Regions from separate parts of the Homo sapiens genome. Here region 2 is linked to region 1. Evidence: fine-mapped expression QTL. Tissue or cell type: sun-exposed skin. Region 1 holds a variant in brackets; the other region holds the start of a gene. All regions are shown on one strand. Distances are from middle to middle.

Region 1 (2,682 bases):
ATCAGCCCCACCCACCGAGGGCTGACCCCCGACTCTTCCAGACCTGTTTCCCATTTCTCCTCTGCTGGGGCCCCCCAGTAGCCTGCTGGTATGCTCATGTCTGTGGCTCATGTTGCTGGCTCCTGCTGCTGCCTCCTACCCTGCTGGAGACAGGCAACACTGGGGCCAGCTCGTATGCCACTTCCATGAAGCCTTCCCTGATCCCTCCTGCTGGGCCCTCTCTTCCCCTCTCCCTCCAGCTTGTGGTTCTGCTCTTTGTGGCCCTCACATGTGCACTTGTGCTATGTATTTCATTGTTTTGAAGCCCTCACAGCCACACAGGGCGTCCTCATTGTGTTCTTCCCCCAGTGCTTCTCAGCCACTCGGGACAGTCCCAGGTGACCAGTCCATTAAAGTCTGAAAACTAATCCACCTGTACCTGGAGGGAGTCTTGGATCCCAAGCAAGGGAGTGAGAATTGGGACATAATATTGAGATACTACCAATGCCAACTTGGGAATCCTTCCTCGTATCTGTCTTGTGTGTTTATAGCTTCAATTTCAAGACAGAAATATCCACCCACCTGTTTTGTGATGCTAAAGAAGTATGCACACTGAATTTTGGGAATAAATCAAAAGCCGAATGCCACTACCTCCTGCTTGCTTGTTTAAAGGTTAGCCTTTAGGATCTCTTAACTTCCACAACCAATAAAACGTGTTTCCTAGTCCTTATTATGGCCAATCATTTCCACATTTTGTTAGAGTCTGCAGATTACCTTGGCACGTTAATCCTGAGTTCTGTCATCCCAGGCAAATACAAATGCTCAGAACAAGGACTTACGATGAAAATGTTAGTGCACTCCATCTTCCAGCTGCCTGACAAGCAGCTTCTACTCAGAATAAGTATAAATTAGCTAATGCTGAAGCTGCAGAAATGTTTAATCCGTATCCTGTGTCTTGAGTGATTCCTCCCTCCTCCCCCTATTCATTCAGATGTTAATTCTAGATCTCTCTGTTGCACTCAGGGTTGAATCTGGTAAAATGCTAGTGGTATGGTACCTGCAGGAAGGCATATATAATTTCTCTATCAGAGTGCTTTTAATGCCTTCTTTCAGTGGGCCTGATACATAAGAAAAGATAAATGCTTATGGGCCCCAAAACTCTTTGGAGTCAACACATGCATGAGAAAGTATAATACCTTTTTAAATTTTAATCATTTTAGCCAAAGAGCGAAATCTGTTTTTACTACTTATGAGAGATGGTGCTAAATTAAATACGAGGCAGTGATCTGCAGAAAAAGAAGTCCCCACAAAAACAGTGCTTCCCCATGGGAAGCAAGAAGCACTTTAGGAAGCTTAGAGTGGGGAAGTGATGGGGTGGTGGGCTGGAGGCAGCCTGAATGAAGAGAGGAGGCAGAGACAGAGGCTGAGCGGCAATGGTGGAGCTGCTGTAAGACGATGCTGGGGGCTGGCAGGTGGTCTAAAAAGCCCTTTCCTGGATCCCTGTGGGTGTGAGGGATTAAAGCCTACAGGTAAAGCAACTACAGGCCCCTGCCACACCTCCTCAGGTGCTTAAAGAGTTGCCTCTGTGTTCCCAGTTGTAAATGAGATCATCTT[T/G]GGTGATGTCTGGATGATAATAACCACTCTTTATTACACATTTTCTCTGTGCTTTACAGGGAGTAGGTTCTTTAATCCTCCCAACATCCCTTTGCGGTAGGTGCTGTAAGTCATTTTATAGATGAGGAAATTGAGGTCTTAGAGAGGTTAGATCATTTGCCCAAGACCAACAGCTAGTCAGTGGTAGAATTGGGATTTGAGCACAGAGACAGTCTGGCTACAGAGCCTGTGCTTACCGTAACCACCATGCTTTTAAATAGCAATTTTTCCTAATGAAAATTGATAGTGTAATGTCCAGAAGGTTAGAATTTAAAAAATTAAAATAAAACGGTCTCTGTCTCATGGATTCACCAGGGGACCTGGGGGAAATGCCCTTGATCTTGGTTTCCAGTCTATAAAAGAACAATTATGCCATTCTTCACCCACCCATCCTACAGATGTGCTTTGAGGATGAATGAATAGATTGGTCATCAGGGCTTTGAAAACCCAAGATGATTGAAGATGCCTAGTTAAATAATATGAGTAAATGAGTTTCCACATCCCTGCACAAGACTCAGGCCCCCAAACTGGAGCAGCTTTCCAGCAACAGCTGGTTTGAGATTTTCAAAGCAAATTTCACGCACATTCTATGTAAGTCCAAAACCAAAATTTCCTTGTGGAACTTTCTTTTTTTTTTTTGCAGGAAATTCATCTGACGTCTCACTGAAAATCTCTAAGGCAAGCATGGTGCCCTATCAGGGATATGGTTTCCAGCCTTTTGTCTTTTTTTTTTGAGGCGGAGTCTCGCTCTGTCACCCAGGTTGGAGTGCAGTGGTGCGATCTCGGCTCACTTCAACCTCTGCTTCCCGGGTTCAAGCGTTTCTCCTGCCTCAGCCTTCCCAGTAGCTAGGATCATAGGCATGTGCCACCACGACTGGCTATATATATATATATATACACATATATATGTATATTTTGTATTTTTAGTAAAGACAGGGTTTCACCATGTTGGTCAGGCTGGTCTTCAACTTCTGACCTCTTGATCTGCCCCAACCCCTGGCCTCCCAAAGTGCAGGGATTACAGGCATGAGCCACCGTGCCTGGCCCAGC
Region 2 (2,682 bases), 67 kb before region 1:
TGTTTTAGTTTCATATTTTTTCCTGATTCATATTGCTAATATCATAACTCATTTTAAATAAATTTATCATGCTTATTTAAAAATCTTGGTCCATCTGCTCTACTGATCAGTTTCAGATGGCATATGTTATTCAGTTGTGGTCTTTTAACAGTAGTTGCACTCCTCCAGTGTCTAATTCTTTGTCCTATGAATTCATGTTCCCCTGGGGTTTCACCTACTCTGTCTGATAAACATGCATCCAGGAAGGCCCAGTGAGTTTGCAGTGGGAGGGTGGTGTGAGCCCAGAAGGAAATCGCTGGCACCAGAGAACCACTGTCTATCATTCCCAGTTTCTCCCACTTACCCAGATCTTTCCTCCAGTCAGGTTTCTACCCTTAGGGAGAAGCAGCACCTAAAGGAAGCAATTAACCTAGCAACCCTAAGGGTGGCAGGGGGAAGGGTAGAGGCTTGATTGAGAGGAGGTGGGGGGAGGTCGGCCTGCAGTTTTTTTTGTTTTTCGTTTTTTAAATTCCTCACCCCAACAGTGCTTTTGCGCTGGTCTGACACTACCTGGAAAACTATGCCACCAGTCGCTTCAGTGGACACTACCATTTCAATTGCGAAGTCAGGCAATGATTGTCCTAAGGCAAGGTGGGAGAGAAGTCAGAGTAAACCACCTCGAGAGCGCCGGTCTCCCGGAGTGTCTGGGTTCGACTCCTGCCTCCACAACTTACTGGGTCTCCTCGAACAAGTTGCATCACCAATGGCCGTGCCTCAGTTTCCCTCCTCCGTAGATTAGGAATAACAATAGCAGTGAGAACAGAATCCAGCACACAGTAAATGCTGCTTACCTGTTTGCTATGTGGAATACGCCACTACACTGTTGCTCGGCCCTCAGGAAGGGTCTGCTGAGACTTTCTACTTCCTGCTCAGGGCAGAGGCCGACCACCCGCCCAAGGTCGTGGCGGCGCCGGCTCAGCTTTAGTCGTCAAAGTGCACATCCTGGGAGCCGCTGCCTCGAGGTGGTTGAGGCGAGAGGGCAGGGAAGCGTCTGAGCCTCTTCCTCCCACCAGAGCAGGACCCCAGCTGACAGCGGGTGAGCTGGGCAGAAACCCATGCCGGGAAGAGGCGGACCCAGTGGACCGCAGCGCCCGCAGTCGCCGGGCCAGGCGCAGAGGCGAACGGGAGGCGGCGCTGCACCGTGCCCGCCCCTCCCCGGCCCGGCCCCGGCTCCAGCCCCAGCCCCAGCCCCAGCCCCGGCCCCGGCCCCGGCTCGCGGGCGCTGCGTCTCCGCGTACAGGAGGCGGCGGCGGCTCCCAGTCACCGGCCCCCGCCGGCGAGCGCACGATGCACTGCCTGGGCGCCGAGTACCTGGTAAGCGCTCGCAGCCTCGGCCCTCGGGGGAGGAGCCCCGGGGAAGGGTCGAGTCCCCCGCCTTCACGCACCTTCCCTGCCGGACGCTTCCGCCTTTCCCGCGCCTCGGGGATCCCGCCCCCGCTTAGTACCTTGGGGCCACCTGGCGGGGAGGAACCTGGACCCTGCTCCAGTGCTGGGGCGGAGGCGGGGGAGACGCGGGCCGCGGGGCGCAAACTTGGGGTCGTCCTCAGGTGCACCTCCAGGTAAGCACTTGGCGGCAGGGGGCTTAACATCCGCTCCGCGCAGAGCAGGTGTTTCAAAGGCTGTGTGAAAGAGCTTCAGGTGGCCACGTAAAAAAATAATATTAATTTTAAAAATTTAGAAAAAGATTGGTTACTTTGGCCCCTCTTCGAGTAGATTTGGGTTCGGTTTCCAGGTTGAGTCCACCTGTTTATCTTCTTTTTCTCAACTCTCCCTTTTTCTGGAAGGTTTCTGCAGAAGGAGCCCCTAGGCAAAGGGAGTGGCGACCCCAGATTTATAGGAAATGCACAGATACGGCATGGTTATTCCTGTTCTTTCTCTTTTGGACTGGTTTGGTAAGTGTGGGTGCTTGGTAGGAAAGAGGCCAGAGTGTGTGTGCACGTCTGGAAATAACTCTGTCCCAAATGTAAATCGTAGTTGGTGCTGCAGTGAGAGACTTCTGCCGTTAACCCACAATAAACATCAGTTTGTACTCGGGAGAATTCTTGTCCTAGACTCGCTAGAAAGGCTGTCTTTTTGCTACAGGCCATGTTCTAAGGGGTGACTCCATTAGGAAATGGGAATTAACAGTTTGCAATGTGATTGCTATTTAGTAAGGCCAATGTGTCTCCTTTTACTCTCCGAACTTACTGAACAGAAGTTCTTTTAGCACCTGCCACACCCCCAAATCAAATATTCCTCAAGCTTTTGGTGCACCTTTAACAAAGGAAAAGCCAGGGTAAGCCTAGAAATAAACTGCATTTCCTTTAGCTGAACATCACACACACACGCGCGCGAGAGATATGTTGTGTTTAGCAGCCAACACTGTTAACCATAGCTAACAAGGAATGATTTTTCCCACTCTAATTTCGAGGTATGTATGATTGCTGGTAAACTCCATCAGGCTATGCGGTTATAATCCTGAGAGAGTCTGTTGGAAGCCGAATCTTGCTGCTTTTATACTTATTTTAGAATTGTAGGTAACAGCAGAAAACGTCTCACCCGACATTTTCAAAGGCCACTTTCACGAAATCATCCATGCCAGGATAAGGCATGCTATTTGCTGCATGGTAAATGATTAATTTATAGAGCAGGGTAATAACTACC

The links. PIP is the estimated chance that this variant, and not a neighbour inherited with it, causes the effect.
Region 2: SLC44A3 starts here. The variant in region 1 is fine-mapped to the expression of SLC44A3 in sun-exposed skin (GTEx, PIP 0.99). The same link has a PIP of 0.9 or more in unexposed skin.

What each region holds. Positions count from the first base shown.
Region 1 is chr1:94,886,383-94,889,064 of GRCh38, forward strand. The region is part of intron 12 of SLC44A3 (solute carrier family 44 member 3); the gene reads left to right. Among named protein-coding and RNA genes, the nearest start is that of CNN3-DT, 39 kb to the right of the region's middle. The variant T/G (reference allele first, on the strand shown) is at 1,594.
Region 2 is chr1:94,819,126-94,821,807 of GRCh38, forward strand. It overlaps SLC44A3 (solute carrier family 44 member 3), which reads left to right and starts at 1,232. Exons shown (of 15, transcript NM_001114106.3): 1 at 1,232-1,353; 2 at 1,824-1,931. The coding sequence starts at 1,327. SLC44A3-AS1 (SLC44A3 antisense RNA 1) reads right to left here and starts at 1,107. Exons shown (of 6, transcript NR_160780.1): 1 at 831-1,107. RefSeq lists a silencer at 1,236-1,425.